Homo sapiens: one gene and its partners. The protein of the gene in region 1 binds, or shares a complex with, the protein of each later gene. Each region holds a gene or a part of one and is shown in the gene's direction. Other genes may lie near its edges.

Evidence for each region. The genes of interacting proteins can lie anywhere in the genome.
Region 2: CEP290 (region 1) and AHI1 share a complex: the UniProt entries of both Homo sapiens proteins name them as parts of the tectonic-like complex.
Region 3: CEP290 (region 1) and TCTN1 share a complex: the UniProt entries of both Homo sapiens proteins name them as parts of the tectonic-like complex.

What each region holds. Positions count from the first base shown.
Region 1 is NC_000012.12:88,131,248-88,139,088, reverse strand, and holds part of CEP290 (centrosomal protein of 290 kDa), read left to right. Parts: intron 1-2,302; coding exon 2,303-2,446; intron 2,447-7,841. UniProt on the Homo sapiens protein: Involved in early and late steps in cilia formation. Its association with CCP110 is required for inhibition of primary cilia formation by CCP110.
Region 2 is NC_000006.12:135,452,741-135,460,171, reverse strand, and holds part of AHI1 (jouberin), read left to right. Parts: intron 1-2,458; coding exon 2,459-2,678; intron 2,679-4,245; coding exon 4,246-4,438; intron 4,439-6,735; coding exon 6,736-6,831; intron 6,832-7,431. UniProt on the Homo sapiens protein: Involved in vesicle trafficking and required for ciliogenesis, formation of primary non-motile cilium, and recruitment of RAB8A to the basal body of primary cilium.
Region 3 is NC_000012.12:110,609,470-110,617,128, forward strand, and holds the start of TCTN1 (tectonic-1 isoform 1 precursor), read left to right. Parts: upstream 1-4,659; 5' UTR 4,660-4,713; coding exon 4,714-4,933; coding exon of another isoform or gene 4,934-4,994; intron 4,995-6,807; exon of another isoform or gene 6,808-6,843; coding exon of another isoform or gene 6,844-6,883; intron 6,884-7,278; exon of another isoform or gene 7,279-7,435; intron 7,436-7,659. UniProt on the Homo sapiens protein: Component of the tectonic-like complex, a complex localized at the transition zone of primary cilia and acting as a barrier that prevents diffusion of transmembrane proteins between the cilia and plasma membranes.

The sequences.
Region 1 (7,841 bases):
TTTCAAATTTTAAAATTATTGTTGGCTGGAAAAATTATAAGGATGATTGTAATCATGGTTATTTGTTTATTCTGTATATGTTCTACATGCCTATTATGTGCCTTATATAGTACTAAGGACTGAGCATATGGTTGTGAACAAAATAAGAAGTTAACTGCTGGATGGAGCTTATAGTCTTGGGAAATATACAGAAAGATTACTAGTAACTGAGGTGGAGGGTGGGTGGGGATTTGAGGAATAGTGACGAAAGGGTGTTATAGAAGTAATTTTTGACAAAGCTGAAGGCTAAAATATGAATGTATTGTTGAAGAACAAAATACATTGAGATTCCTGAGAAGGTAGGAATGTGATACAAATGGATCAGCCTTTGAAAGGAGGAATACCCTTTTCCTTTGTGTTAGGAGAGGAGGATGAGTGGATGAGCGTGGGAAGAGTGGATGTGTATAGAGGCTTTTATGTTTGTAGGCATAATGCTTGGAAGTTGAGGGGTTGGTGATGACATCTTCTGTTAAAAAGAGTGGGAAATGGTGTGGTCACATTTTAAGGAAATTAGGTAAAATTTGAAATATATTGGAGACAGGACTGGAGAGTTGGGGATCTGGAGTCAGACAGATTTGAGTTCTAGTCCTGATTCTTCTACTCGTTAACTCTCTGAACTTGGATGACCTATTGTTTTTGATTGTATATCCAGCTCCTGGGAAAATGCCAAGCACTTTCAATAAATACTAAATGAATTATGGAGTTGGATCAGTTCTGTGTTAGTGTTTAGCTAGGTAGCTGCTGTAGAATAGAAGGGTAGCACAGTTGAAGATATTGGTAGGAAAGTGGTTGAAGTGATGATTATGAAGTCTTAACTGAATAGATAAAATCAAGATTGGGGTTGGGTGGGCAGAAGGGTAGGGATATGGAGGGAGAAGATGAGGGGTTAGAGTGTCCTGTGAGGTCGAAGGACAGGCATAGTGGGAATAATTGAAAGAATGTTCTGGTTGGACAAGGATCTGATGTGGGTGTGGGAGTGAGAGACTATAGTGAATTCAAGAAAAAAATAGACTAGAACAAAAGTTATGTGGAGATTGCTTAGTGGGCATTTGATAGACATCTGTGGGCCACATGCTTAAATTCCCAGTGCATTTTGCGGAGTTACTGGAAGGTTGGTGGCTTGTTTCTACCATGAGTAGGTAAAGATGGAGAGCAGGATATTTTGTGAGAAAGCAGCTGAAGTTTCTATAGGATGATGGAGGAATGATAGGAATGATCACCTGAAGTTGCAGGGTGGGGTAAACCTAGAAGCACCAACACCTTCTTCTGACCCTCATGTATTTGGAATCTGAAAGAATGAGCACCTTCCAATTGAAAGAGTTCCAAGGGCATTAGTATACTAAAGGATCCAAATTGCAGCTAAGCCAAGGAGATGGAAAGGAGGATTCAGTAAAGAATCTGAGGATGTGAAATATTAATTTATCTTGGAAGAGAATTTTAGAGAGCACAATGGAATGCTTTTTGGAGGAGAGAAAGAGTAAGAACAATTTGGTTAAGGTAGAGGAATAACAGAACTATAAGGTGAAGAAATGAATGTGAGACACATTAGATGACCAAATGATTTGATGTTCTTGGCCATGACCTGAATTAACAAGACTGTGAGGTAAAATGGATTTAATCGGCTACAAATCTTAAGATAACCAAAACCTGAGCTGTTTAATATGGTAGCACTAGCACTAACCACTTGTAGCTATTTATATTTACATTGGTTAAAATTAAAATGAAAAATTTAGTTCTTCAGTTGCACTAGCCACACTTCAAATGCCCGAACATAGCTACATGTAGCGAGTGGCTATTGAACTGGACAGCACTGACAGCATGTCCATTATGCTAGAAAGTCCTATGGGACAGCACTGGTCTAAACAGTGCATGGTATGAGAGAAAGGGCAGGTTAAGGCACTCAGCTTCACTGACTGGGGTGGAGATTCTGATGGTTTGTACTCAGGTTCCAGATCCCTGAGGCTCAGGAACCTTTGCAGTTTAGTCTGGTTACCTGTGGCCCAGTGGTTACAACAGAATGATTAACAGTCAATTCTTTGCATCTCTGGGTGGCTCAGGAAAAATTTAAGGAGTTATTAGCTGTGAACTAACCTTAAGTAAGTTAAATTAAAAAAAAAAAAGTTCTTAAGCTAATATGATTTTAAATATCTGCACTGAAGTATAATGCAAATTTAAATTCAGCATAATTATTTGCTTGTTGTTGACTCATTTGAACCTCAAAATATAATGGGATTAATTTATACTTTGGGTTTATTACTTTAAGATGGCTCAGCAGTCTGCAGGTGGACGAGATACTCGGTTTTTACGTAATGAAATTTGCCAACTTGAAAAACAATTAGAACAAAAAGATAGAGAATTGGAGGACATGGAAAAGGAGTTGGAGAAAGAGAAGAAAGTTAATGAGCAAGTAAAGCACTTTTTTTTTCCATGAATCTTCACTGTTCAAGTTACCTGGCTTTTTATTATTATTGGTAACAATATCAATTTTTATATTGTATGTTATATTTGAAAAATGATGTACACTTATCTCTAAGGTTTTATATCACTGTTCATTTTGTCATCACCAATTTTAAAATATAATGGTACTTCTAGTGAATATGACTTGAAGATTAATTCTTTATATTTGGAAGTACATTTTTCTCAGGACATCAAACTTGTTACCTAAAATTAATGCTTTTGTCTGGAAGATTGGTATCAAGTAACTAATAGATTTTCATAAAGAAGTGATCTTTCTAGTGCCATAGTTTATTTTGGGTAAAAGTTATATTTGTTCATTTCAATGTATTTATATGATTAGTAGATTCGCAAATGAATCTTTCGATATATTCAATAATGGTTAATTAAATATCTTGTTTTTGGTTGTACCTTATTTTATGTGAGATATATATATATATGTATAGTTTTTGAAAAGTTGTGTTCATGTCAGCAGTTTATAAATCACATATTTAAAATAACATTTTTAATGCATAGTTTTTATTACCTCGTTATTCCTTGTTATAAACTAATAATTCTTGCAGTGTTCACTTGAATTTAGTTTTAGGAAAAAAGTTTTTTGCAGATCAACTTGTATTTCCTGGAAGAAAATTTCCTATTTTACCTCAGCTTCCTATTTAATGTATTATTTATTTATTTACTTAACATTTATTTGTTTTTTATTTCACCTGAACTGTTAGTAAACTTAGTAAAATTTGGTGCCTACATGTGGTAACTGTCCTGTCCCTTATACTCAGAAACGTTTTCCACCTTTGTGTCCTTTAGGTCATTGTTGTGTTATATTCCATTTATTTTATTTTGTCCATTGTTCTCTCAGAAATTGAGGGTCATACATTTTAAGAAAACAATGATATGCTATTTAAGAGAATGTATCATAAATTGATTTGTAAGGAAAAGTATCCCCATTCTTCATGTATGTATTTTACTCTAAAATGTTGAAGAATCATATAGAAGTTAGCTATGAAAACAATGTGGTAGAGAAAGTATGGATCGATGCCACTTAAATGTTAGGAAGAAGCTCTTAGAGCATTATCTGTTTAGCTAACTGCAAAACATAGCAGACATGTGGATTTTTTAATAGTCATCAAGGATCTAACTTATAATATACACTGGTAGAATTGCTTAGGGGGATGTCTGTGGTTTTCTGGACTTTTGTTCTTCTATATAGACCTGTATCAGTTGACTTATCATTCATACCACACACCCTTAGCTAATCAGAACTACCTTGTCCATTTATATCTTAGACTATTGTCTTTTTTCATAGTCACACACAGAGAAAACTTGAATATATGGCCTGTGTTCCTTTTTGGCTGCTCAATTCCTTGAGATGAAATATGGGTATGGGTTGCTTTGGCAATTACTTCTTTGCCGTTAACCAGTCATTCAGTTTTATTGAGTCTTTACAGCATACCAGAGGCTGCTAGTTACTAGTGATATAGTGGGCAACTATGTTCTGGTTCTCAAGAATATTCATAGTCAATAATAAGCATAACATAGTGATAATATGATACTTAGGGAGATACATAAGGTCATATTCTGGCATACTCTGGAGAGAGATACCGTAATCAGCCTTGAGGTGCAGGATGTGATCTGTAAACTGAGACCTGAAGTATAGTTAGACTGGTAAGAGGAATGAGGATATATATGGTGGTTAATAAAAGAACATTCTGGGTAGAAGATATAGCATTTGCTAAGACCTAGAGGTAAGAGATGTTATGGAGTATTTAGGAAACTACAGTTATTCATTTTGACTGAAATATAAGTGAAAATAGCTTTCATAGAGTCCTTACTATGTGCCAGGCACTTCATATGCATTAATTCATTATTGCTTATTTGATACTTGTCATATGAGATAGTTGTCATTTCTGCCATGATACAGATGAAGAAATGGAGACACAGAAAGAGTAATTGCCCATGGTTGCACAGCTTATAAATGGTAAAGGTAGGATTTGAAAACAGTCTTACTCAAGAGTCTGTGCTATCTTGCCTTCCCAGTTTTATTTTTTATGATCCTCTGGAGAGATAAGCAAGGGCCAGTTCCTAATGAATTTGGTTCTTTTCCTGAAAGGAGCCAGTGAAGAGTTTTGAGCACAGGATATCATGATCAGATCTATACTTTAAAAGTTTACTGTACTTTGTAGAGAGTGGATTGAAAAGGGCCAAGACTAGTAAGGAAACATTTGTGTTAATTCAGGGAAGTGCTAATGATGGCATTTGCCTGAGAAAGACAAGTGTGAGAGAAGTAGATGTAATTGGATGTGGTGAATGTAATTGGTTGTTGGAGGAGAGGGAGGATGGAGAGTCTGCCTAATTTTGTGGGTTGGGCCACTAAATAGGTAGATAGTGCCATTCATTAAGGAGGAACACAAGAGGAATTTGGAAAGCTTGAGATTATTTCAGTTTTGTAGATGTTGAGTTTGAGGTTCTTCTGGGCATATTCAAAAAGGGTATCTGTGGATATGGAATTCACAAGAGACCCTGTACAGATGATGAGGATTTATGAATCATCAATGTAGACATTATTGAAGCCAGAGAAGTGATTGTAAGGCACGTCTCTGAGAAATGTCTAATAAAGCAATGAAATAGGAAGAGTGCTTCAAGGAAAAGCTCAAGAAAGGAGAAACAGAGTGTGATGTTTGAGAAGACAAGGGAAAAAAACATTAATAGCATTAAATGCTTTAGCATTAAGTTCTTGGCTTCTCTTCTTGTAAAAATTTCCCAATTCAGAACACAGTGGGATTATTAACTTTCAATTGATAATAATAATGATAGGCAAACTTCTAAAATTTGTATTGTAGTTTGCATTTTATTATAAACTTTCTTTAAATTTTTATTTTGAAAAATGTCATATCTTCATAAAGATTGTAAGAAACACACTGTTGGTGTTAATGTAAATTAGTTCAACCATTGTGGGAGACAGTGTGGCAATTCCTCGAAGATCTAGAAGCAGAAATACCACTTGACCCAGCAATCCCATTACTGGGTATATACCCAAAAGAATATAAATCATTTTCTTATAAAGATACTTGCACACATATGTTCATTGCAGCACTATTCACAATAGCAAAGACATGGAATCAACCCAAATGCTCATCAATGATAGACTGGATAATGAAAATGTGGAACATATACATCATAGAATACTATGCAGCCATCAAAAGAGAATGAGAGGTCAAGCGTGGTGACTCATGCCTACAGTCCCAGCACTTTGGGAGGCCGAGGCAGGCAGATCACTTGAGGTCAGGAGTTCAAGACCAGCCTGGCCAGTATGGTGAAACCCCATCTCTACAAAAACAAAACAAAACAAACAAAAATTAACTGGTCATGGTACTGTATGCCTGCAGTCCCAGCTACTTGGGAGGCTGAGGCAGGAGAATGACTTGAACCCAGAAGGCAGAGGTTGCAGTGAGCTGAGATCGCACCACTGGACTCTAGCCTTAGCAACAAAACTAGAGTTTGTCTCAAAAAAAAAAAAAAAAAAAAACCGGAACAAGATCATGTCCTTTGCAGGGACATGGGATGGAGGTGGAAGCCATTATCCTCAGCAAACTCACACAGGAACAGAAAACCAAACACTGCATGTTCTCACTTATAAGTGGGAGCTGAACAATGAGAACACATGGACACATGGTGGGGAACAACACACACTGGGACCCGTCAAGGGGTCGGGGTGGGAGAACATCAGGAAGAATAGCTAATGGATGCTGGGCTTAATATCTAGGTTATGGGTTGATCTGTGCAGCAAGCCACCATTGTACACATTTACCTAAGTAACAAACCTGCACATCTTACACATGTACCCCAGAACTTAAAAGTTGATGGGAAAAAGAAAAACAATAACCACCCACATACCCTTCATATAGATTCACCAGTTCTTAATGTTGTGCCAACTTTGCTTTATCTTTTTGTCAGTATTTTTACACACACATGTATTTCTCTGTCTCTTGTTTGTTCAATCACATTTTTTGCTGAGTCATTTAAGAGCTAATTGCAGATATGATACTTTGCACTTAAATATTTCAGCTTGTCTGTTTGAAAAAGAAAGATGTTCTCCTACAATGAACACAATATAATTGTCATGCTCAGGAATTTTAATATTGATTCAACACCATTATCTAGTCCATAATGAGATTTCTTCTAATGGCCCAATAATATCCTTCAGTCTCCCCACCTCCAATATCCAAAGTTCTGTCAAGGATCACATACTACATTTGGTTCTTTATTATAGACTTTTTAAATATCGTTGTATACCATTGTGATTCTATCGTCTCCTTTAATAAAGAGGAGAACCAGAAAAATGAAAGGTCATAAGAGGAATGAGGTTTGGAGAATAGGTGAAAAAAGGCATCATAATGTTTATAATAATGTTTGCCTGTTCAGAGAAACAAGAATCACAGATAAAGTCACTTATATGTAGATAAGAGAATGCTGTATTACTTTTTGCTATTCTATTCACTGATCATTTTTCTAAGAACTCTGTATGCTTCTTGTTTAACTCTTATGTCAGCATGTATGAGAAAACTGAGTTAAAGAGATGTTAAGTAACTCATTCATGCTTTACTAGAAATTGGTTGATGAGGGACATAAACCTAGGCCGGTGTGATTTTAGATTGCTTCTTTTAACCATTGTGTTGTATTGCCTTATATTTCTAAGTAATTTATGTTCACTGAGAGCAAATAATAGTCTAGCTATGACTTAGAAAAGTAAAATAAAGATGTTGGGCAGAAAACCATTTTATTAGGGGTTTTTTTGGAGGAGCAGATTAATTTGTTTCTGTATTCTTTGGTTAGTTTGTGTGTGTGTTCTTTTTAATTCTTTAAAATGAAACTGTTTAATCCTTAAATCCTTAAGTTTTGAAAATTTTGGCCTATTATTTATGTGTTAGGTTGATATTAAATCCTTAATAGCTTTAACATTTTCTACTTTGTTAGAGAGGATTTAAAATTTAAGTAGATAAGCTGAATATCTGGCTTTATATTAAATTACTGCTGATGGCCAGGCACAGTGGCTCATGTCTGAAATCCTAGCACTTTGGGAGGTTGAGGCAGATGGATCACTTGAGGCCAGGAGTTCAAGACCAGCCTGGCTAACACAGTGAAACCCCGTCTCTACTAAAAATACAAAAATTAGCCAGTTATGGTAATGCATGCCAGTAATTCCAGCTACTCGGTAGGCTGAGGTGGGAGAATTGCTTGAACCGGGAGGCAGAGGTTGCAGTGAGCCGAGATCGCACCACTGTACTCCAGCCTAGGCGACAAAGACTTTGTCTCAAAAAAAAAAAAAATTACTGCTGAATTTTATCTTCTTC
Region 2 (7,431 bases), on another chromosome or scaffold:
TTGCCCTGTCACTCAGGCTGGAGTGCAGTGGCGTGATCTCAGCTCACTGCAACTTATACTTCCCAGGTTCAAGCGATCTTCCCACCTCAGTCTTCCAAGTAGCTGGGACTACAGGCATGCACCACCATTCTTGGCTAATTTTTGTAGAGACAAGGTCTCACTACATTTTCCAGGCTAGTCTCAAACTCCTGGGCTCAAGCAGTTCTCCCACCTCAGTCTCCCAGAGTGCTGGGATTACAGATGTGAGCTATCGCGGCCCACAGAGTTTATTCTTACATTGTTTGGATTTTTCTACATATGCAATCATGTAATACGTTAATAACGATAGTTTTATCGCTTCTTTTTCAGTCCTTATGCCTTATCATTTTGCTTGCCTTGATACAAATCAAGATTTAATCTCTTTATTATCAATCTTTTTTTTTTTTTTTTTTACTTCTGTCAGCTATTTGATATACTGTAGTTTTTGAGGGATGTGTCTATTTCATCCAAATTTTGCATTTCTATAGCATCTGAAAGGCTGTCCCATGTTTTCATTCATGGTATTGGCAGTTTGTTTTCTCTCAATTTCTTGATCAGCCTTAGGATTTTAAATTTATGAGTCTTTTCAAAAACCAACCTTTAGCTTTGATTTTCTCTGTTGTACATTTATGTACTATTTTAGTGATTTTTTTTCTTGTAACTGTATTTTCCTTCTTTGTACTTATTTGGGTTTGATTTGCTACTTATTTCTAGCTTTAAAATTGGGTTTTATAAGAAAGATTTCAGTCTTCTTTTATATGCATTTAAGACTAAATTCCCATTTAAGTACTACTTTACCTGCATCTCCAAAATTTTTAATATTGTGTGTTTTTATTATTTAACACAAAATATTTTCTAATTTCCATTTTAATTGATCATTATTTAGAAGTATGTTGCTTAGTTTCAGGCAGCAGATGCTTTTCTAGTTATCTTTTATTGGTTTCTGTCTTCCATTGTTGTCAGATAACATATTATGAATGATTTCAATCCTCTGAGTTTATTGAGGCCTTTTTAATGACCATTTTATGGTCAGATTTGGTAAATATTCCATGCTCATTTGAAAAGAATGCAATTTCTAATGTTGAGTGCAGTGTCCTATGTATGTCAGTTAGGTCAAGTTTAATTGTGCTCAGTTCTTCTTATTAATTTTTTTGGTCTACTTATTCTGTCAGCTGTTGAGAGAGGTATTAACATTTCCATTCCGATTTTCAGTTTATTTTTCTTGTATCTCTTGTCAAGTTATCACTTTTATCATAATGCAGCGCCCTTCTTTATCTCTAATAATTCATAGCCCTAAATACGATGGGAGATCCAGTTTTGCCCTTCAGTGCTTTTCCACTTAGCCATTTAGTCTTCTGTCTCATGCTGCTTCAAAATTTGGCAAATTCTTTGAGCAGGAGACTGGCTATATGTTAGACATCCTTCAGGTATCCATTTTTGTCACTGTAGCCCCCAAGCATGCCAAAATATCCGCTGGTTTCTCTGTCCCTCAGTAGCAACCTTCTGCCAGAAATCACACCTGGATTATCAACCTAGAACTGTGACCAGAATTGGTAGATGACCCCAGATGAAAAGTTGCTCTTGGTCCTTAGTGTAAATTGACCACACCCTCCAGGGCTTCACCTTTGCCTATTTTGTTTTGGTCCCCTTCCCCTGGCAGATCATGGTCTGCTAGCACCACAAGCCTGGGAGATTTCACTACCTCTCTAGCTTCTCTGTAGCATCAGAATTCAGTTTTGTGAGAAGAATTGGTCATGTGTTTGAGGCTTCTCAAATCTCCAGTTTTATCATTTTAGTCCTGTGGAATCACTAAAAGTTTTGCTTATTTCTCATTCTCCTGGCAGTGACTTTCTGCCTAAGCCAAACTCTCATCTTCAGCTCACACCCTGAATCAGCAAATGTCCCCAGAGACAAAAACAGCTGCCAGTCCATCAGCTGACCTCTGACTGATTCTCCCTTTCTGGAATTTTAATCTGTCTACTATATCTTCTTTCTGTACTTTTCTGATGCCTTTAAAATTTAAAATAAGATATTTGTAATTTATTTGGCTCTTTCCAGTTGTTACCCAAAGTGTTTACCTGCTGCATCCTACTGCATCCCACCCAGAATTAGAAATTCTAGTTGTCATATATATTCTACTTAGAAAATACCTGGATAAAGTTACTTTTCTGACTTTGACTCTCTTTTTTTTCTTTTTGTGTTTCTCCTACTTATTAGGAAAAATATAAACAAGGATTTTTCACCTTATTTGTAATGTATTAGCAAATGTAGTATTTTACTTTCACACTATGGTTTGCTGTTGTCTGGCTTTTTCTTTCTTTCCCCCTGAAGTTCCTTTGAACACAGTGAGATCATCACAGATCTTAAAGATTAGGTTATATGTAAATACTACTATGGGAACAACTAATTATAACATTGATTTTTTTTTCCATGCGTGTAGTTGCAGATAATAATGAAGATGTTGATGGTGATGGTGTTCATGAAATAACAAGCCGAGATAGCCCGGTTTATCCCAAATGTTTGCTTGATGATGACCTTGTCTTGGGAGTTTACATTCACCGAACTGATAGACTTAAGTCAGATTTTATGATTTCTCACCCAATGGTAAAAATTCATGTGGTTGATGAGCATACTGGTCAATATGTCAAGAAAGATGATAGGTAATTTTTTTTAATTGCACAACTAATTCTTGAAACTGAAACTAGTAGAAGTCTTTTTTCTGCCATTGGTAGTTGAAAGTCAGTGGGAATAGAGTTATGGATTTGTATTAGAGAATAGTCTACTAGTTGTAGGTGTTCATCAGTCATTAACATTGATCAGAATGTTGTAGAAGAAATGGAGAACATCTAATTCAGTAATTACTTTTTTTCCGAGATGGAGTCTCGCTTTGTCGCCCAGGCTGGAATGCAGTGCTCAATCTTGGCTCACTGCAACCTCTGCCTCCTGGGTTCAAGCGATTCTACTGCCTCAGCCTCCCAAGTAGCTGGGATTACAGGCACTCGCCACCACTCCTGGCTAATTTTTGTATTTTTAGTGGAGGCGGGGTTTGGCCAGGATGATCTCGAACTCCTGACCTCAGGCGATCTACCTGCCTCACCCTCCCAAAGTGCTGGGATTACAGGCATGACCCACCGTGCCTGGCTCAGTAATTACTTTTAAGTGGAAGGGAATAATTCATTTTAAGTGGTAGAGAGCTTCTGCCAGCTTAGTAGATGTAATTTATGACATAAAGTTGCATTGTAAATATTTTATATTGCATTGTAAATGCTTTAATTGTCTAACCTCATATTTTTCTTTTGAAAGTAATGTTATCTGGGCTTCAGGTAAGGTAAATGAATCTTGAATGTTTTTTCTAAGAGTACTTCTATAGCTAATGCATGCTTGAAATCCCAAATGAAAAGTACAATGAAATACACATTTATACTAGAATTTTTTAAAAAATTGTTTGGAAAGCCAGTGGGGAATGGAAACAGGAAGATTGTCCAAAAAAAGCCCATTCACCTATTCATTTGCCTTAGGGCACACAAAGAAAATATGACAACTCAAAGGGTTTACAGTCTTGTGCCTTTTTTATGTAAAATCAATTTTATGTCTTTTTTTTTTTTTTTTGAGACAATATCTCACTGCGTCTCACTGGCTGGAGTGCAGTGGTGCAATCACAGCTTACTACAGCCTCAACCTCCCTGGGCTCAGGTGATCCTCCCACCTCAGACTCCCACGTAGCTGGGACTGCAGACATGTGCCACCATGCCCAGCTAACTTTTTTTCTATTTTTTGTAGAAACGAGGTTTCATCATGTTACCCAGGCTGGTCCCAAACTCCTGAGCTCAAGCAGTCCACCTGCCTCAGCCTCCCAAAGTGCTGGGGTTACAGGCTTGAGCCGCTGTGCCTGGCAATGTCTATTTTATTATAAACTCTTACAAAATTCTGAAGGAGTTAGTTTATCCCAGCTTTATATGGCAAAGGTATAATCATACTTCTCACTTTATATTTCTATAATAAAATAATCATGTGAAACCAATTGATAGTAGACAAATATAAGATGGACTGTTACTTTTAAGTCTTATAAAATTTGTAAGTTTCTAGATGGACACTCAGAATAATTTTTCCTTTTGTATTATTATGACTATTCATTATTTCTGGTTGCCTCACCTTGTACACTATATATTTTTTTCTCACCTCAAAATTATGAAAATTGTGTTAATGGAAGTATCTTTTTTTGTACAGTGGACGGCCTGTTTCATCTTACTATGAAAAAGAGAATGTGGATTATATTCTTCCTATTATGACCCAGCCATATGATTTTAAACAGTTAAAATCAAGACTTCCAGAGTGGGAAGAACAAATTGTATTTAATGAAAATTTTCCCTATTTGCTTCGAGGCTCTGATGAGAGTCCTAAAGTCATCCTGTTCTTTGAGGTATGAATTGAATGGACCAATTCAAATTAAACGATAGTTAATATTTAATAGCACAAATGTAAGCTATTATTTTTAGTAGTCCAGTAAGGCAAAAAAAAAAGTTGTGTGAGAATTTAATCTCTAGGATTTAGTTTTCCAATGCTGTGGAATCAAGTGAGACGCCCTTTTATAAACAGTGATAGCATATTTGCTGAGTGTTTACTATTTAACCATTTGGCCTACTTTGTATAATTTAATAATTACAACAGCTCTGTGACTGTTAACTGTAGTGAAGTGATGAATCCACTCGATATGAATGCATTTCTCCATTTTAAACCCATTTCACAAAGCATAAACTCATTTAACCATGTCAGGCACCCTAAGAATATGTGTACCACCTGGATAAATAAAGATAAATGTACACAGATCAGTTAATGCAGTTTAATATGTAACCAAAAATGATGTAGAACTTATATGTGAAGGGTTAGTGGCGGGTCAGTGGAGTCAGGGAAAGCTTTATGGAATACATGGCTTTTGAGCTGACTAGTTGTTATTATATAATTTTCTTACTGAAAATGATAACAAGGTTTGGAATAAAAGTGATTTCCCCAAAGTTACTCGAATTTTAAGTTAAAAAAAATGCGTTTGCAGATAGTTTGAACCTAGAATACCACATTTCTTTACTCTATCATGTGTTCTGTCTCCATAAGCAAAGGACAATAGAGAAAGCCCCCTTCCAGTGTAAGCTAGATGGAGAAGTTTAGCATGGGAACAGCAGGGGACTTGGCATAACCAGTGCCGAAGATTCATTTTGTAGAATTACTTGTTTTTATGATCCTTGACTTTCAGGTTGTCTATTTGTATTTATGATACAAATATTCCAATATTTACATTTGTGATTATGTTGTGTGTGATTTACATAAAGCTGTTATTGTTGAAAAATTGATATAATTTGTATCTTAAGGAATTTTTTGTCTTCAAACTTTGTCATTTGTTACAATTTTCTTCTGTATTCATTTTAGTATTAAGAGATGAAGAAGGATAGATTGTTGTATTATAAACGCTTTTGGTTGCTTCTTAAGTTTTAATGTAATATGTTATTGCCTATGCAACTGCTTTTTGATCTCAGTTTTTTAAGTGTTGAGGACAACTTGATAATGTCTCACAGTCTTTAAAACCATTATTTTACTCTTAGGTATTTATCTTAAGGAAAAAAATGACAAGTCCGTGAAGATGTGTGTGCAAGGATATTTATTTCAGCACTGTTTATAATAGCAAAAATTTTAGGGAGATAAAATAACCTACATTTAGATCAGTAAGAGATTTGGTTAAATAAGTTATAATTTTTGTTAAATTTATGGTATTTGTGACAGAATAGTAGGCAGTCATTAACATTACGGTATTCATGTGTATGTATTGACATGAAGAGATATTCACTACATACTATATGAAAATAATTTGTGAAATAGCATTATTAGATTTGTAGTTCCACACATATGTTTAGGAATGCACAGAAAAAGATTTGGCCTGCAAACTAGATGTTAATGGTGACCATCTATGGGTCTGGATTACAAGTTGTTTTTACTTTGGATCTATATATTTTTTATATTATGTTTTCACTGAGCATGTATTATATCTGTAAAAAAGATTTAGGTATCCAAAAAGCACAGATGATTGGAGTCTGTATCATTTCTTAAGCAGTCTTCTTTCTATAAAAATCTCATTTTCGCAGCTGAGCTTTTAATAAGCACCAGTAAGTTTGAAGTGATAGCCTTTGATAAATATCTAGAATACGATCTCTGTGGCAGGTTGGTTGCAAATCCATGAGCTTTAATGTCCAGACAGGATAGAGGAATGGAAGAAATCCTCTTGAGAAGCCTAATTATAACATACATCCAAAGAGAAAAACCCCAACTTCAGGAAGGTGATCCAAGACAAAGACCCAGAAATAGGGTTGTGAGTTTTTTAAACAAACAATCCTTTAAAGTCTGCTGTGATACATAAAAAACAATGAAAGCTTAAGAATTCTATGCCTATTATATTTGTACCTAGGTTATATTTGAGGTGATTAACACTTTGCTTTGGATTTGAAATAAATCATAGTATTTATTAATGAAAGATAAAATAGTCAGAAAATGGACCCTCCCTAACTGAATGAGTTAACTTTAAGGTGAATGAAATGAGATAAAAATGTTTTTATTCCCTGTAAAGGTTAATGTTTTTAAGCACTATACAAATGATTTTTTAAAGTTTTAATAATGTACCATTAGAAAATATTAAATTTTAGGTAGCTTAGTCTTCTGTGAATTTATTTGCAGATTCTTGATTTCTTAAGCGTGGATGAAATTAAGAATAATTCTGAGGTTCAAAACCAAGAATGTGGCTTTCGGAAAATTGCCTGGGCATTTCTTAAGGTATGTTTTTCATCCATTTTAAACACTTTAAAACTAGTCTTCAAATTTAGTTGGCTGCTTTCTCCCAAATCAGTTTGGTCTCATATAAGGAATTAGAATCTAAGGTAATGTTGTAGGGATGAAGAGTTACTAATTCAAGCTCAGGTTATGCTCATTCAGATTCTTAAATATTTATTGATGGCCCAGTATGTGCCAGTTACACTATTTGGTTCTGAGGATGTAGCATTAAAAAAGACACAAACAGCCATGCCATTATTTATTCAGTTCAAAAAATATTAAGACTTTTCTATGTGCCAGCTACTGTTGTCAGTGGACAAAGATGACAAATTCCTTGAACTCCTGGACTTCATATTCCAGCAACACAAACATAAAACAATTGATTTCACAATTTATCATTTAATTATAAATTTTTATAAATATCGTAAAGAGGTATAGGATGGATGATGAACTGTGGGGTCAGGGAAAACATTCCTGAGGAAGAGACACATTGCCACCGGTGGGGAAGAAATGGTCTATGGTAGAGGGTACAATATATGCAAAAACCCTGATATTTGAAGGAGCAGGGTTAATTCAGAAAATCAAAAGAAGGCCACCAAGATT
Region 3 (7,659 bases), about 22 Mb from region 1:
GGTGAGGTGGCAGGCATGTGTAATCCCAGCTACTTGGGAGGCTGAGGCAGGAGAATCACTTGAACTGGGAAGGTGGAGGTTGCAGTGAGCTGAGATTGGGCCACTGCACACCAGCCTGGGCAAAAGAGTGAGACTCCATCTCAAAGAAAAAAAAAAAAAAGAAACCCAAAAAGAAAAAAAAATAACAACTGTATGGTAAACAAGGAATTCTTATTTCATTCCTGTTGGTGAATGTCTGTGACTGTATGTATGACTTTCTTTTAGAAAAGGTCAAATGCAAATGTGAGACCTTTCAAGAATGTGAAGTCTGCTCAAATAGTCCTTCTGTCCCCGTAATGTTTCAGAAAACACTTAAAGAACAAGAATAGGCTGGGCGCGGTAGCTCACGCCTGTAATCCCAGCACTTTGGGAGGCCGAGGCGGGTGGGTTACTAGGTCAGGGGTTCAAGACCAGCCTGGCCAAGATAGTGAAACCCCGTCCTACTAAAAATACAAAAATTAGCCAGGCATGGTGGCGGGCACCTGTGGTCCCAGATACTTGGGAGGCTGAGGCAGGAGAATTGCTTGAACCTGGGAGGTGGAGGTTGCAGTGAGCTGAGACCGCTCCACTGCACACTAGCCTGAGCGACAGAGCAAGACTCCATTTCAAAAAAAAAAAAAAAAAAAAAAGAACAAGAATAGTACTCAGTGGTTGATGAGGTACGTGGGGACTGGGAGAATGAGAGCAGTTGAGGATTATTTTCTTCTGGGCGTTGATCTGGAAATCAATTACCCGACTAGTTACTTCAGTCAAAATGGTACAGCCAATCCTCCGTCTTCACACAGTCTTGATCCCTTTGTAGATCTAAAGCAACCCCTTTAGGAAGCTTTGTGACTCTGCCACCTCATTTGTGAAATGTTTGGGAGAGATTAATAAAAATAGATATACTAATCACTAGAAAAAAATTTCTACTTTTTCTTTTGAGACAGGGTCTCACTCTGTTGCCTAGGCCAGACTGCAGTGGTGTGATCATGGCTCACTGCAGCCCTTGACGTCCTGGCCTCAAGCGATCCTCCCACCTCAGCCTCCAGAGTAACTGGGTTCACAGATACGTGCCACCATGCCCAGCTAATTTATTAATTTTAAACAGGTTGGAAGCCATGACTTCAGCAATAACAAGAACAACAACAATAATAACCAATTCACCTCAAACCACACCAAAGAGCAAGACAGAGTGGTTGACACTACCTTGTGAAGTTAGCCTTAGTTTTTTTTCCCTACTTACATACTCCTCCTATCTTTGATTTTTTTTCCTTTCAGGCTTCTCATATATGGCGACTTCTCATATATGGCAGCTTCTCAGCACAGAATTCTAAAAAGCTGAATTGTCTTGATCCTCCCAATGTCAGCATACACTATAAGGAATTGTGAATGCCAATAATCCTGGAGAAACAGATGGATATTTGAAATCACAAACATTTATGCACAAACCAAATGTTGAGGTTTTGGGCACAATATGGAGCTCGATCTTAGCCACTCTTGTGTCCTTCCATCCTAATGAGGGAACCTGCTAAGGCCAGGGACAAAAGGAAGGGAGAAAGGGTGTTCTGGGTTGAAAGATGAAAACAGGCTGGCAGAAATGGGTCACCTGTGAAATGAAAAGTTCCAGTGTTCCTAATGTTTGCAAACTGTATCTGGGTAGGTGCAATCCTCATTCAGAGTCAAATATCATAAAATTACTTTGGGGCCATCTACCACGTGTTTGTTTGAGATTGGACAAAAGAGGCGGTGAAATTGGCAAATCATATCATAGCAGGTCCTGGTTGGAATAATGGGATATCAGACTTGAAGAGGACCTCAGAGGTCCTATAACCATAACAAAAATTATAAAACTGGATGGGAGTGGTGGCTTACGCCTGTAATCCCAGCACTTTGGGAGGCCAAGGTGGGCGGATCACTTGAGGTCAGGAGTTCAAGAACAGCCTGGCCAATATGGTGAAACCCCGTCTCTACTAAAAATACAAAAATTGGCTGGGCTTGGTGGCAGGTGCCTATAATCCCAGCTACTTGGGAGGCTGAGGCAGGAGAATCACTTGAACCTGGAAGGCAAAGGTTGCACTGAGCCGGGATCCTGCTACTGCACTCTAGCCTGGGTGACAGAGTGAGACTCCATCTCAAAAAAAAAAAAAAATTATAAAGCTAAAGGATGAGTTATCAAAATTTAATCCAGCAGTCTAAAATTTCAAAACAGAAAATAGAACAAAATGGTTCACAGGTATTAAGGAATAGGAAAGAAAGTAGAGGGCTGGAAGTAAAGAGGTTTAAAAAGGAAAACAAACAGGCCCTGGTTTTAGAAGTTATGAGATGAAGGTTTGGAAAATATACTTTTTTTTTTTTTTTGAGACGGAGTCTCGCTGTGTCACCAGGCTGGAGTGCAGCGGTGTGATCTCGACTCACTGCAACCTCTGCCTCCCAGGTTCAAGCAGTTATCCCGCCTCAGCCTCCTGAGTAGCTGGGACTACAGGTGCCCACCACCATGCTCAGCTAATTTTTGTATTTTTAGTAAAGACGGGGTTTCACCATGTTGGCCAGGGTGGTCTTGATCTCTTGACCTCGTGATCCACCCGCCTCAGCCTCCCAAAGTGCTGGGATTACAGGCGTGAGCCACCATGCCCGGCCTACTTTTGGTTATTTTTTTTAAAAGGGGAAGCATTTAATCAGTTATTAAAAGCAGTCCAGAATTTCAGTCAGATGCTAAAGCAATCCTTTGCAGAAAAAAAGAAGTATCTGTCTTACACATTTGAGTGATTCAATTATATTTTTATACACTGTCTCTGGAATGCCACAGGAAGGTGCTAAAGATATCACTTTGATGATTTAGTTTTGCTAAATACATTTAATAAACTAGATATATATACTGTTTGACATCCTTTTGAATTGGTATATACATTTCTTGAATAAATACTGTGTTATGTTTAAGGTTTTTTTGTTTTGGAGTGCAGTGGCACTATCATGGCTTACTGCAGCCTCAAGCTCTCCAGACTGAGGCGATCCTTCCACCTCAGCCTCCTGAGTAGCTGGGACTACAGGAATGTGCCACCATACCTGGCTAATTTTTGTATTTTTTGTAGAGATGTGGTTTCACCATGTTGCCCAGGCTGGTCTCAACTCCTGGACTCAAGCGATCCTCCCAAAGGGCTGGGAGTACAGGTGTGAGCCACTGTGCCTGGCCACGTCTAAGTACTTCGACATCTACTTCTGAACTGTATGGAGATTAAGTGTCAAAGGTGCAGCCAACATTCTTGGGCTTGGGTACCTCCTAAATAAGCCCATTCAGAATGGAGAGGGTTTCCTAAATCGTAGGGTCTCCAGGTCGTTTTGTAGCATTACAGTGGATTTGCTTTGTTTTCCCCTTTAAGATGTCTAAATTATTTTACTTAATTTTTGTAAAAGATTTTTGTCTTTAAATAGGTTCTTAGGCCTGGCGTGGTGGCTCATGCCTGTAATCCTAGCTCTTTGGGAGGCTGAGGCGGGAGGATCACTTGAGGCCAGGAGTTTGTGACTAGCCTGATCAACATAGTGAGACCCCCTCTCTACAAAAAATAATAAAAGGTATTAAGTGTTCATTTGTCCCCTTTATCACAATACAGCAGACAGAAGTTATCTGGCAACCTTGTGAGATGCAGCTAAAATAAAAAGGTGAAGCCAGTGTTGACAGAGTCTGGGATAGAGAAAATTCAGAGACAGTGATCTCACAGATCCCTGTGCTCCTTCCAAACACCCACGTTAGTGGCGTTGGGACGGCGCTTCCTAAATTTCCGTCCAACTCATCTGCTTGCGTCCGGACATTTGTTAAAAATATTTATTCCTGGCTGGGAGTGGTGGCTCACGCCTGTAATCCCAACTACTCAGGACTCAGGAGGCTGGAGCAGGTGGATCACTTGAACCAGGAGTTCGATACCAGTCCGGGCGACGGAGGGAGACCTCGTCTTTACAAAAAAAAAAAAAAAAAAAAAAAAATACAAAAATTAGCTGGGTATGGTGGCGCGCGCCTGAGTTCCCAGCTACTCAGGAGGCTGAAGTGGGAGGATTGCTTGAGTCCCAGAGGTCGAGGCTGCAGTGAGCCGAGATCGCGCTACTGCACTCCAGCCTGGGCGACAGAGTGAGACCCTGTCTCAAAAAAAATCCCCCAAAAACTGATTCCTGGGTCCTGCCCTAGACTAACTGACTCAGGATCTCCTGAGGTGGTACCTGGAAATCCGTCTTTTTTTTTTTTTTTTTTTTTTTTGGTTGAGACAGAGTGTCACACTGTCGCCCAGGCTGGAGTGCAGTGGCACGCTCACGGCTCTCTGTAGCCTTCACCTCCCGGGTTCAAGCGATTCTTCTGCCTCAGCCTCCCGAGTAGCTGGAACTACAGAAAATCTGCATTTTTTAAGCAAGCGCCGCGGACCGGTTGGAAACCACAGCCGGGATTTACACGCCCCTCGTTTACGCCAGCTTCACACCCGCTCACTAGTGCTCGCCCCTGTGCCTGCCATCGCTGCCTCACCCAGGCGCCGCCCTCCGGCCTCATCCGGGATCCGCCCCCTGCCTCATCCAGGCTTCGCCCCAGTCAGTCTCCGGCAGCTTCTCGCGGCTTCGCAAGCCCCTTCCCGTGATGCCCCGCGCCTGGCTGTCGCGGTTGCCGGGCAACGCGCTGTCCATGTCGCGGGCCTCGCTGGGACTCCCTGGGAGATGAGGCCGCGAGGTCTCCCGCCGCTCCTGGTGGTGCTCCTGGGCTGCTGGGCCTCCGTGAGCGCCCAGACCGATGCCACCCCGGCGGTGACGACAGAGGGCCTCAACTCCACCGAGGCAGCCCTGGCCACCTTCGGAACTTTCCCGTCGACCAGGCCCCCCGGGACTCCCAGGGCTCCAGGGCCCTCCTCCGGCCCCAGGCCTACCCCAGTCACGGACGGTGGGTACCATGTGCCAGCTCCTGGAGTCCACAGTGATCCAACCTCAAGGGGACAGCCCCGGTGAGGACGTAATAATGATAGCTAACTCTTATTGAGCACTTACTGTGTGCAGACACTGCTGAGTGTTCCATAAACGTCCATTCTCTAAACAATAACCCTGAGAAGTAGCTGTTACTATCACTGTCAGGTAAATGAGAAAACCGGGTCTCAGAGTTTAAGTGGAACGGTATCAAACCTTTGAAAATACTTGAAGTGGTCCCAGACAACAGTGATGCAAAGAGCAATAATGAATTCTTGCAGCCCAAGACGAAATTAAGTCGAGACAATGGTGGAAATTAGTGCCTTGGCTGCACTGAACTTTCACTTAAAGAGAGGCCAAAGGTCTATCTTACTAAATGTGACTATGTTAAGACCCTTCTCTGTTGACCTGAATTCTAAAAACCCAGGATTCCTCCTGTGTTGAATTGGAGGTGGAAAGCTATTGAGGGAGGGGTTATGCTCACTTCTTAGGAGTCATATGTAGGGATAATTAACATTTTTTTCAGAAAATGATTAATTCTAGAATTACACATTTAGTGGAAATATTTTATAATCTAATTTGACGTTTGGCTGGCGCCGTGGCTCACGCCTGTAATCCCAGCACTTTGGGAGGTCAACTCGGGTGGATTGCTTGAGGTAGGAGTTCAAGATCAGTCTGGTCAAAATGGCGAAACCCAGTCTCTACTAAAAATAGAAAAAATAGCCGGGCATGGTGTAATCCTAGCTACTCGGGAGGCTGAGGCAGGAGACTCGCTTGAACCCAGGAGGCAGAGGTTGCAGTAATTACCACTGCACTCCAGACTGGGCGACAGAGCAAGACTGTCTCAAAAAAAAAAATTGACATGGATGACTTCACTGAATGACTGTGACCCGCTAAGATTGAGTGCAAAACTTTGTGAATATGCCTTTTCCTGAGATGAGAGTTCATAGCAGCCGATTCTTAAAGTGGTTCATGATCTCAAAAAAAGTTTTTAAAATTTTCCGATTGTGTGAATTGAGAGTAACCCCAATAGATATGCAGTACTTTTAATCTTTTTTTATTCTTTTTTTGTTTTTGAGACAAGGTCTCGCTCTGTTACCCAGGCTGGAGTGCAGTGGCGTGATTATATCTCACTTAAGTCTCAATCTGCTGGGCTCAAGGGATCCTTCTGCCTCAGCCTCCAGAGTAGCTGGAACCACAGGCGTGCTCCCCCAGCTTGCTTTTTTTATTTTTTTATTTTTAGTAGAGATGAGATCTCGCTATGTTGTTCAGGCTGATCTCAAACTCCTGGGCTCAAGTGATCCTCCCACCTTGGCCTTCCAAAGTGCTGGGATTACAGGTGTAAACAACTGTGCCCAGCCTATCCCTTCTTAAGAAGATCTTTTCTCAAATTGATTAAGGCTCAGTATTAGTAAGTAAAAAAGTCATCAGCTGAGATCTTGAACTCTAGGACTTAACTGCGGTTACTGAACCTTTATTTCTCCAAAAGCTCTCCTTTCTGAATTACGAGTAATCTGAAAGAAAAAGTACAGAGAAATATATTTGCTATTTTAATATATAAACAGAGCTCTGTTTTATATTTAAATTGTTGATTTGATGAATTAGTAGGGAAGTTAAATCAGTGATAAACTGGGACAGAAGAAAGCCAAGTATTCAATGCCTGAAACTCTAAAGTTTTTGGACTGGATTGTCTTTTATTCATGTAAGTACTCCATCTGTTAATGCATTTTCTCTCCAAAATAAAGCTATGCTTGAAACATCATTATTATAGCATGTGTTCAAGGCTGTTTTTCCAGTATAGGGGATGAATTTGTGCTTGTCCTCACACTTTATTTTTTTTTTTTTTGGTCACAGGGTCTCACTCTGTCACTCAGGCTGGAGTATAGTGGCATGATCACAGCTCACTGCAGCCTCGACCTCCTAGGCTCAGGTGATCTTCCCACCTCAGACTCCCGGGTAGCTGGAACTACAGGTGCTGCATGCCACCACGCCCGGCTAATTTTTTGTAGGGACGGGGTTTCACCATGTTGCCCAGGCTGGTCTTGAACTCCTGGCCTCAAGTGATTGCCCACCTAGGCCTCCCATAGTGTTAGGATTACAGGCTTGAGCCACTGCACTCTGCCAGTCACCTGTCTTCACCTTTTTAAAGGACCTCTCTTTAGACTTGTGACAGTAATAACTCATTTGTTAACTGTTCACTGTGTGGCAGGCACTGTGCTAAGCATTTCACCTATGATGTATCTCATTTAATCCTTACAACAACCCCATGATGAGGGTACTGTTATCCCCATTTTTCAGGTGGATAAATTATTTGCCTAATTTTAGGACACGCAACTTGTAGATATCGGAGCAGGAGGCTGACTGTGAGTGGAGAACTGGATGGAAAATTGCAGGTGGCTTCAGGCAGTGTTGGTGGAGAAGAGTGATAACCCTTCATCTTGAATCTGGGCTCTGTTCATTAGTACCCTGCTCTACAAGCCAGGTGTGCAGATGCGATAGGAGGCAAGGGCAGCTGAGTGCTGCTTAGACCTGACAGGGGCTCAACAGCTACTTGGTGGATGATTAAGTACACTCGCATCCTGGGTAGAAACCTTTTTCCTAAGTGGAGTTATTAAACACTATTGCTTCGTCCTTAGTAGTCTTACAGCTGCCTATAAGGGCTTTAAGTTTTGAAAACAAAGCAAGATAGTAATTTTAAACATACAG